Linked DNA regions of Homo sapiens: region 1 is linked to region 2. Evidence: fine-mapped expression QTL. A gene starts in region 2. The other region holds a variant in brackets. All regions are shown on one strand. Distances are from middle to middle. Region 1 has its middle 21 kb from the start of HAX1. Region 2 holds the start of SHE (Src homology 2 domain containing E).

The links. PIP is the estimated chance that this variant, and not a neighbour inherited with it, causes the effect. A credible set is the group of variants that fine-mapping cannot tell apart.
Region 1: its variant is the best candidate, but not a certain one, in a credible set for the expression of SHE in nasal epithelium (TOPMed, PIP 0.69).

What each region holds. Positions count from the first base shown.
Region 1 is chr1:154,291,342-154,296,712 of GRCh38, reverse strand. It overlaps the pseudogene RNU6-239P. Among named protein-coding and RNA genes, the nearest start is that of HAX1, 21 kb to the right of the region's middle. The variant G/A (reference allele first, on the strand shown) is at 3,228.
Region 2 is chr1:154,499,908-154,505,218 of GRCh38, reverse strand. SHE (Src homology 2 domain containing E) reads left to right here and starts at 2,807. Exons shown (of 6, transcript NM_001010846.3): 1 at 2,807-3,783. The coding sequence starts at 3,193. TDRD10 (tudor domain containing 10) reads right to left here and starts at 3,000. Exons shown (of 13, transcript NM_182499.4): 1 at 2,190-3,000.

The sequences.
Region 1 (5,371 bases), 210 kb after region 2:
ATGCCCAGCTAATTTTTTGTATTTTGTTATTTATTTATTTATTTATTTAGAGACGGAGTCTCGCTCTGTTGCCCAGGCTGGAGTGCAGTGGCAAGATCTCAGCTCACTGCAAGCTCTGCCTCCCAGGTTCATGCCATTCTCCTGCCTCAGCCTCCTAAGTAGCTGGGACTACAGGTGCCTGCCACCACACCTGGCTAATTTTTTGTATTTTTAGTAGAGACAGGTTTTCACCATGTTAGCCAGGATGGTCTCGATCTCCTGACCTCATGATCTGCCTGCCTCTGCCTCCCAAAGTGCTGGGATTACAGGCGTGAGCCACCGTGCCCAGCCTTGTTATTTATTTTGACATGGAGTCTTGCTCTGTTGCCCAGGCTGGAGTGCAGTGGTGTGATCTTGGCTCACTGCAACCTCCGCCTCCCAGCTTCAAGTGATTCTCCTGCCTCAGCCTCCCGAGTAGCTGGCATTACAGGTGCCCGCCACCACACCCAGCTAATTTTTTTGTAGTTTTAGTAGAGACGGGGTTTTGCCATGTTGGCCAGGCTGGTCTCAAACTCCTGACTTCAAGTGATCCACTTGCCTCGGCCTCCCAAAGTGCTGGGATTACTGGTGTTAGCCACCACGCCCAGCTAATTTTTTTTTGTATTTTTATTACAGTCAGGGTTTTGCCATGTTGGCCAGGCTGGAACTAGTTAATTTTTAAAAATTTTTATGTAGTGATGGTGCCTTGCCATGTTGTTCAGGCTAGTCTCAAACTCCTGAGCTCAAGTAGTCCACCTGCCTTGGCTTCCCAAAGTGCCGAGATTACAGGCATGAGCCACCACACATGGCCGTAATTTTCTTTCAGCTCTTAAAATATCTCATTCCATTGCCTCCTGGTCTCCATTGTTTCTGAAGAGAAGTCTGCCGTTAATTGTGTACTTCTTCCCCCATATTTGATGAGTCTTTTTTTCTTGCTGTCTGAAAGATCTTTTTTGTCTTTTTATTGTAATCACTTATTTTTAAATTCATTCTTCCATGCTCAGATTTTTTGTATTCATCTGTGTATTTAACACAGTAGTATTACTCTCTATATATAGTACATTTGCTTTTATTTTTTCTTTTATTTACATGTAAAAATATGGAATGCTTCACAAATTTGCATGCCATTCTTGTACAGGAGACTGGCTAATCTTCTCTGAATTGTTCGAATTTTTGTACATGTGGTAGCCAATTGTCTTTAAACAAGTTGACCGTGATGTGTCTATGTATTTGAGGTTTATTGAGATTCTCAGATGTGTAATGTTTTTCATCAAATTTGAAAAGTTTTTGGCTATTATTATTATTTGTTGTTTTTTGAGATGGAGTCTCACTCTGTCGCTAGGCTGGAGTTCAGTGGCAAGATCTCGGTTCACTGCAATCTCTGCCTCCCAGGTTCAAGTGATTCTCCTGCCTCAGCCTCCTGAGTAGCTGGGACTACAGGCACACACCCCTACACCTGGCTAATTTTTGCATTTTTAGTAGAGATGGGGTTTCACCATGTTGGCCAGGATGGTCTCAATCTCTTGACCTTGTGATCTGCCCGCCTCGGCCTCCCAAAGTACTGGGATTACAGGTGTGAGCTACACACCTGGCCTTTGTATTATTTTTTCAACTACTTTTTTCTGACCCTTTGTCTCCTCTCCTTTGGACATGTATTACATGTATATCGGCATGCTTGATGTACCACTGGCCTCTGAGTCTTTTTGTTTTCGGTGTTTTTTTGTTTTTGTTTTTTGGTTTTTTTGTTTCTTTTTTTGAGACAGTCTTGCTTTGTCACCCAGGCTGGAGTGCAGTGACATGAACATGGTCACTGCAGCCTTGACCACCCAGGCTCAAGCGATTCTTCTGCCTCAGCCTCCCAAGTAGTTGGGACTATAGGGGCACACCACCATATCCAGCTTACTTTTGTATGTTTTGTTGAGATAGGGTTTCATCATGTTGCCCAGGCTGGTCTTAAACTCCTGGGCTCAAGCAATCCATCTGCCTCAGCCTCTCAAAGTGCTGGGATTACAGGTGTGAGCCACTGTACCCAGCTGTTCACTTTCCTGCAATCATTTTTGTCTCTGTCATTCAGACTAGATTATTATTATTGATCTATCTTCAAGTTTATTAAATTTTTCCTCTGCTATCTTAAATCTGCTATTGGGTTCATTTAGTAAAATTTTCATTTCAGTTATTTTACTTTATAATTCTAGAATTTCTGTTTGATTCTTTTTTTATAGCTTCTATTTCTCTGTTGAGATTCCATATTTATTGAGTCATTGTTAAACATTTTTATTTAATTCCTTGAACATATTTATAATATGTGCTTTAAAGTCTTTGTCTGCCAAATTCAACTTCTGGGCCTACTCAGAGTCAGTTTTTATTTTTATTTATTTTTTTTTTTTTTGAGACAGAGTCTCACTCTATCACCCAGGCTGGAGTGCAGTGGTGCCATCTCGGCTCACTGCAAGCCCCGCTTCCCAGGTTCACACCATTCTCCTGCCTCAGCCTCCCAAGTAGCTGGGACTACAGGCGCCCGCCACAATGCCCGGCTAATTTTTTTGTTAGCCAGGATGGTCTTGATCTCCTGAGCTCGTGATCTGCCAGCCTCGGCCTCCCAAAGTGCTGGGATTACAGGTGTGAGCTACTGTGCCTGGACTCAGTTTTTATTTTGTTTTTTATTGTTTTTTTTTTTGGAGACAGAGTGTTGCTCTGTCACCCAGGCTGGAGTGCAGTGGAATGATCTCAGCTCACTGCAACCTCCGCCTCCCAGGTTCAAGCAATTCTCCTGCCTCAGCCTCCCCAGTAGCTAGGATTATAGGCGCCCACCACCATGCCTGACTAATTTTTGTATTTTTAGTAGTGACAGGGTTTCATCATGTTGGCCAGGCTGGTCTCAAACACCTGACCTCAGGTGATCCACCCGCCTCGGCCTCTCAAAGTGCTGGGATTACAGGCGTGAGCCACTGCACCCGGCTAGTTTTCATTGACTTTTAAAATCAGGATATGAGTTACTGTTTTTTAGGTTTCTTCGCATGTGTCATAATTTTTTTCTTGAAAACTGATCATTTTATCCTCTTCCTCCTCTAAAAAACTGGTCATTTTAGATAATAGACTGTAATAACTCTGGATTCTGTTGTATTTTTCCGAAAGGTGGTGATGCTGGTGATGCTGATGGGGTGTGTGTGTGTGTGTGTGTGTGTGTGTGTGTAATTTGGAGTTAAACC[G/A]TAGAGTCTGGATTCTATTGTATTTTTCTGAATGGTGGTGATGCTGGTGATGCTGATGTGTGTGTGTGTGTCATTTGTCTGGAGTTAAACTGTAGAGTCTATCATTCCACAGTGTGCAGCTGCTAATGTGTCTGCTCAGTTTTTATTCTCGTTTTTTTTGTTTGTTTGTTTGTTTTGTTTTGTTTTGTTTTGTTTTGTTTTGTTTTGTTTGAGATGGAGTTTTGCTTTTGTTGTCCAGGCTGGAGTGCAATGGCATGATCTTGGCTCACTGCAACCTCTGCCTCCAGGGGTCAAGTGATTCTCCTGCCTCAGCCTCCTGAGTAGTGAGTAGCTGGGATTACAGGCATGCACTACTATGCCTGGCTAATTCTGTATTTTTAGTAGAGACAGGGTTTCTCCATGTTGGTCAGGCTGGTCTTCAACTCCTGACCTCAGGTGATCTTCCCACCTCGGCCTCCGAAAGTGCTGGGATTACAGGCATGAGCCACCATGCCCGGCCATTTATTCTTGTTTTTAAAATTTTCCCACAGGGGTCAGGCATGGTGGCTCACCTTTAATCCCAGCACTTTTGGGAGGCCAAAGCGGCTTGAGCTCAGGAGTTTGAGACCAGCCTGGGCAACATACCAAGACCCCATCTCTACTAAAAATACAAAAACTTAGCAGGTAGTGGTGGCATGTACCTGTGGTCCCAGCTACTCATGAGCTGAAGTAGGAAGATTGCTTGCGACTGGGAGGCAGAGGTTGCAGTGAACCGAGATCATGCCACTATACTTCAGCCAGGGTGACAGAGTGAGACCCCTATCTCAAATAATAATAATAATAAATTTTTCCAGCCAGGTGCAGTGGCTCATGTCTGTAATCCCAGCACTTTGGGAGGCTAAGGTGGATGGATCACCTGAGGTCAGGAGTTTGAGGCCATCCTGGCAAACATGGCGATACCCCATCTCTACTAAAAATACAAAATTTAGCCGGGCATGGTGGCACCCAGCTATACTCTCAGCTACTCGGGAAGCTGAGGTAGGAGAATTGCTTGATCCTGGGAAGTGGAGGTTTCAGTGAGCCAAGATCGAGCCATTGCACTCCAGCCTGGGCGACAGAGTTAGACTCCGTCTCAAAAAAAAAAAAATGTTCCCTCAAGGATTAGAACAGGAATTAAAAGAAATTAAAGACTGTAGGCCGGTCGCAGTGGCTCATGCCTGTAATCTCAGCACTTTGGGAGGCTGAGGTGGGTGGATCACAAGGTCAGGAGTTTGAGACCAGCCTGGCTAACACGGTGAAACTCCATCTCTACTAAAAATACAAAAAAATTAGCCAGGCATGGTGGCGGGCACCTGTAGTCCCAGCTACTCGGGAGGCTGAGGCAGGAGAATGGCGTGAACCTGGGAAGCGGGGCTTGCAGTGAGCCAAGATGGCGCCACTGCCCTCCAGCTTGGGCAACAGAGTGAGACTCTGTCTCAAAAAAAAAAAAAAAATTAAAGACTGTGTAAGCAAAAACTCAGTTGTATGTAAGAAAACCCAATTCCCCCTTGAGGAACAGAAAGGGCTGGAGTCCTTTAAAATTAACTGCCTGTTTTTCTCTCTGTGGCTAGTGAGCCTTATCTCTCCATTTACCAGGCATTGTGAAGACTCTGTTTCTCTAGCTGTGCAGCTGCAAGGTCACTAGACAGATAATCTCAAGTCGTAAAACATGTTGTTCCTTGAACAGTAAGAAATAATGTAATGCATGCCTTAACTGAATAACTGTCTTTGTCTCTCGCTTCTATAATACGCTTCCCCCCGCACAGATCTCCCCCCACCCCACGAAATGCTTAAAAGGTAGCTTGACTCTTTGTTCCAGGCTCAGTCCTTTGGATGTTAATCCAACTGGGTCAGTGAACCTAAATAATTAAATAACTCCTCCTCAATCCCTCGGTCTCTCTGATTCCTTAATTATCCCGCAGCAGTATCACCCCTATGCTTACATAGCACAGTGTTCAGCCAATGATTAGAATAAGCATTGTGTTCCAACACCTCAAGCCCATATAGCATCCACTTCTGCCAATATATCTGTTTGAAGGATGAGAAGTGTATTAAAATGTGCAGCAGTGTTCAAGTCTTCCTTGTCTTTTATTTTTCAGGGAGCTCTCTGAGCTATCCTCCATGCA
Region 2 (5,311 bases):
CATTGTTAACCCGTTTTACAGATGAAGTCCCGGAGATGCAGAGATGATAATCTAGTATTTGGCCAAGATCACTTAGCATCCATGCTCACAAATGGGAGAAGCCTGTTTTCGTTGTGAATCCAAACCATATGACCACATGATTCCAAAGTCCTGAGTTTCCTTCCAATCTATTGTTTGGTCTGGAGAAGTAACCTATTTGTGTAGTTTTTTGTTGTTGTTGTTTTTTGTTTTTGAGACAGGGTCTCACTCTGTCGCCCAGGCTGGAGTGCAATGGTACGATCTCGGCTCACTGCAACCTCTGCCTCCCACATTCAAGCGATTCTCCCACCTCAGCCTCCCAGATAGCTGGGACTACAGGCACACACTACCACGATGGCTAATTTTTGTGTTTTTAGTAGAGATGAGGTTTCACCATGTTGGCCAGGCTTTATCTGTGTTTTTAAAAAGACCTAAAGAATACATAAGGAGCTCTTACAACTCACCAACAAAGACAACAAATAAACCAATTAAAAAGTGAGCAAAGGATCTGCTAGACATTTCTCTGGAGATATACAAATGGCCAATAAGCACATGAAAAGATGCTCTGCAACTTTGGCCACTAGGAAAATGCAAATCAAAACCACAAAGATAACACTTCATATCAATCAGGGTGGCTAAAAGCAAGAGATACAGACAACATCCTCTATCTCTAACAAGTATTGAGGACATGAAGAAACAGGGGCCCTCATATTGCTGGTAGGAATGTAAAATGGTGCAGCCACTTTGGAAAAGTTTGGCAGGCTCTCAAAAAGTTAGACAGGGAATTACGATATGACCCAGCAAGTCCACTCCTGGGTAACTATTCAAGAGAAATTCAAATATGTGTCCACACAAAGACTTTTCCACAAATATTCATAGCAGTGTTGCTTATAATAGCCAAAAAGTGAAAACAATCCAAATATCCATCAACTGATGAATGAATAAAGTGCTGTATAGCAATACAATAGAATATTATTTGGCAATATAAAACGAATGTAGTAGTAATACATGCTATACGACCTGGATGAATCTGAAAAATGATGCTAAGGGAAAGAAGGCCACATATTGCATGATTCCACTTCTCTGAAAAGTCCTGACTAGACAAATCTATATAGACAGAAAGTAGATTAGTGGCTGTCTAGGACTGGGAAGGCGGAGAGGGAAATGAGGAGTGACTGCTAATTGACGGGAGATTTCTTTTGGGGGTGATGGAGATGTTCTAAAATTAGATTGTTGCGATGGTTGTACTGTAAACACACCAAATATACTGAAAACACTTGAGGTGCACACTTAAAACAGGTGAATTTTATGGTATGTGAATTATATCTCAATAAAGCTTTAAAAAAATGTCACTACGCATTTTCAAGAACGTCAGTATGAGCACGCATTTCTTCATTTTAGCTTTCCCACCTCACAAACCACCACCCACACAAATGAGGCCGTCCACAGTCGCCATCATTCTGTTTCCATTGTATATGAGGACTCAGTGTTGGTCAGCCCCTTCAGCACATTTAGTTTGCTAAACCAAAAGATTTCCGTTCAGTAAACTAAGTTTAAATTTCTTTTTTTAAACCAGAAAGGTGTTTTTTTGTTTGTTTGTTTTTTGTCTTTTTGAGACGGAGTCTCGCTCTGTCGCCCAGGCTGGAGTGCAGTGACTTGATCTCAGCTCACTGCAACCTGCGCCTCCCGGGTTCAAGCGATTCTCCTGCCTCAGCCTCCTGAGTAGCTGCAACCATAGGCGCGCACCACCACGCCCGGCTAATTTTTGTATTTTTAGTAGAGACCAGGTTTCACCATGTTGGCCAGGCTGGTCTCGAACTCTTGATCTCAGGTGATCTGCCCGCCTCGGCCTCCCAAAGTGCTGGGATTACAGTCGTGAGCCACCGCGCCCGGCCTCAGAAAGCTTTTAAAGGGCTTCGAAGGGAGGGAGGAATGGCAGAGGCGTCTTTTCCCTTAAAGTGGCCACAGTTCTGCACACGGCACTCCCCGCCCGCACAAATCCAGACTAGGAGGGCCGCTCCCAACCGGCGCGAGCGAGCGACGGCCCCGCGGGAACAGCGACCCCTTTCCCCCATCAGTCGGGACGAGGGCGTTTCCCATGGCTGCCTGCCGACGCCCCTCCCTCCCAACCCTCGCCTGGCATCCCGGGACCTGGGGCCGACAAGCCATACCTCGTCTCGCGGGCCACGCGCGTGCACCTGCGATCGCGACGCCCAGCCTTCGCGCCTTCTCCCTCCGCGCTCCGCCCCCTCTGAGCCCGGGGGCACGGGGCGGGGCTTGCCGGCAGCCAATCCCCGGCGGCCACGGCGGGAAGAGCCTCGCGCTGCCCAGGACCGTGTGCCACCGAAGAGTAACGGAACTAGCGCAGGAGCTGGCGACCGTTGTCCCTGCGCCCGGACCTCGGGCCGCAACCTCTGCCCTACCGCCAAAAATAACGTCTGCAGAAAGAGTGGAGTAGAGCGGAGTGGGTGGGCGAGGGGCTTCCTTCCCGGGGGTGAGCGGCGCACGTGACACTCCTGGGCGCGTGTGAAGGCAGCGCCCGGCCGAGACCGGCTCGGTGCAGACGCGGGCTGTCGGCGGCAGAAGGGGGCTCTCTGCTCAGTGGGGCGCGGCCGATCCGCACGTGCGGCCGCCGCCCCTTTCTCCAGAGCTCGCAGCCCGACCCGCCTCTGCCATGGCGCTCACCCCGCCGCCCCCAGCTCTGGGCAGGAGGTGGCGGGGCTGGGAGGCGCCAGCCGCGGAGGGGAGGGGCGCGCGGAGTTGATGGGCCGCTCGCCGTCCGTCCACCGTCTGTCGCTGCGCCGGGGATACTCCCGCCGCCTCCGCTCGGTCCTCTCTGGTCCCTGGGAGCGTGGGCTGGGCCGCAGGGGGCTTCCGTGGGCCTGGCCTCTCCCACCGCAGGAGGAAAGAGCAGGGGGAAGCCCCCGGCGCCCGCCGCCTCCGAGAGCCACGGTGTCCTCGGGCCGGGCAGGCGTTGAAGACGAGCCCGGGCGGGGCCCCCCGCGCGTCGTGCCTGTCGCCTGCCGTGTCCGGAGCAGAGGCTAGCGCCCGCCCGCTCGGCGCCCCGAGCCGTGAGAACCCCACCCTGCCGGGCGTGGGCGACGGCCGGCCGGGGGCGCACGGAGCAGCCGTCGCGGGGCCTCGCCGCGGCCTCCAGCGCCCCAGTCACGGGGAATGCAGTGGTCCCCGACCCCTGGCGCCTCTGCGTGTCTGGGCTGGGCTTCCTCGCTCGCCTGCTCCACGGCCCCGACGCTCCTGGGCCGAGCCGGCCGGGGCCCCCTCATGGCGGCCAAGTGGTTCAAGGAGTTCCCCCTGAACCTGAAGACCGTGTCGGAGCGGGCCAAGCCCGGGGGCGGCGGCGGCAAATTGCGCAAGAACTCGGAGGCGGGCGGCGCTGGGCCGGGTCCTGGCAAGGGCCGCAAGAACTCGGCGGCCGAGCTGGGGAGCGGCAGGGCCGGCGTCGGCCCCAAGGACAGCCGGCTGTCCCGCGACAGCCTGCAGGGTCTGATTCAGGCCGCCGCGGGCAAGGGCCGCAAAAACTCCCGGGCCACGGAGGAGGAGCCCCACCGGGGTGCAACCAAGAGCTCGGGCTGCAGCACCTACATCAACAGGCTCATCAAGGTGGACACTCAGGAGAAGAACGGGAAGAGCAACTACCCCAGCAGCAGTAGCTCCAGCTCCAGCTCCTCTTCCTCCGCGTCCTCTTCCCCTTCCTCCCTGGGGCCCGAGCTGGACAAGGGCAAGATTATTAAGCAGCAAGAGACGGTAAGAATACAGCCTCCCTTGGACCACCTCTCAGTCGAAGGGGAGCCCTGGGCGCCTGCTAAGCCCTAGGCTTCTTTAGACCTAAGAGGCAGTGAGGATAGGTTTCCTAAGGTCCTTTCTCCCTCCACCATTTGGGAATTCCTGACCATTTAAAATTCTTAGACTGTTTTTTAATTCTTGAAAAACTCTTATTTTAGAGGTGGGGAGTTTTGCAGAAATGTACTAGCCATTGAATTTTGTTAGCAGTTTAGAAGAGTCGTTGAATGAGATATTCCTGTTTGGTTACATTTGACCCCTTTATAGATGTGGTTCATTTTAATTTTGATATTCAGGGGAATTGCAAAGCTAGGCTTGTGTATGACTTTTATGCTTCTTGAGCATAAGGAATGGTAACCTCTCAAGTGTGTAGATATGCATTTCAAAGCTTCAGGAAATGGTTTAACCAACAGTCTTCTCCACTGATTTGGAAGTTCCATCATTTTCTGCGGTTCCACCGAGTAAAGGGCTCCTCGGAGGTTCAGCAAATCTCCAAGACTGCTGCCCTTTCATTCATTCCATGGGCATTTGTTGCGCAGCAGCCATATGAGGAAAGGAGCACAGGGCATTAAGGGCTGTGGAGGATACAGAATATGACAAGGAAATGCTCTCAAGGAAATTACAGATGAGAAGAGAGGGTGTTTCCTGCGACGGACACACTGGAGGTTTTCTGGGTGCTGTCCAATGTGGAAAAGTTAAGAAAAGGAGTGTGAACATAGGAAGGGACTCCCTCCATTCTTGCTGAGATGAGTTGGTCCGATCTGGTTGTTTTTATCTTCTCTCCGATGTGAAAGGGGGAGAGAGAAGAGCTCAAATCGAGATTTCAGACTCCGGTCCAGGCAATCACTTCCTAACATGCATGGGAGCTTTAATTTTCTCTTGCCCAGGCTTCAAACATGCTACCTCCCTGGTTGAAGTCAAGAGCCCATAACACATGCTGTGTATGTCTGCATTGGGCACTTCTGTTCATTCTTCCATTCATTTTTTCATGCTGTAAATACAGCATGCCCACCCTGAGCCAGGCACTGAGTGGAGAGCTGTGTAAAGATGGACGGGGACCCAGCTCATATGTTATTCAGTGGTCCACCTGACTGTGTGACTAGATCACAAGCACCTTGAAGCCAAGGGCTCACTGTATCTTGCAAATGCGGTACACATGGTGGGTAGTCAAGAAAAATGGATTAAGTGAATGGCAGTCGCAGTCACAGTCCCTTGCAGTGGTTGTCTGGTTATTTTTATGGTTGTCACTTCTGGGTGTCTGAGGTTTCTGAGGCTATTTCCAGGCTGTTTCCTCCTCTTCGCTTCTCCTCATGTATCTGAATTCTCACCAACTCCAGTGTTACTTCTAAACTCTTTGGAGAATGTAACAGAGGTTGTGGAGCAAGGCCTGGAGCTTCCTTCCTGAGAAGGGTCCCCTACCCTCTGGTGTTGTCACCCATGTTGTCACACACCACCTCCTCAGGTGCCTTCTATTTTTGGAAAGATGGATGCT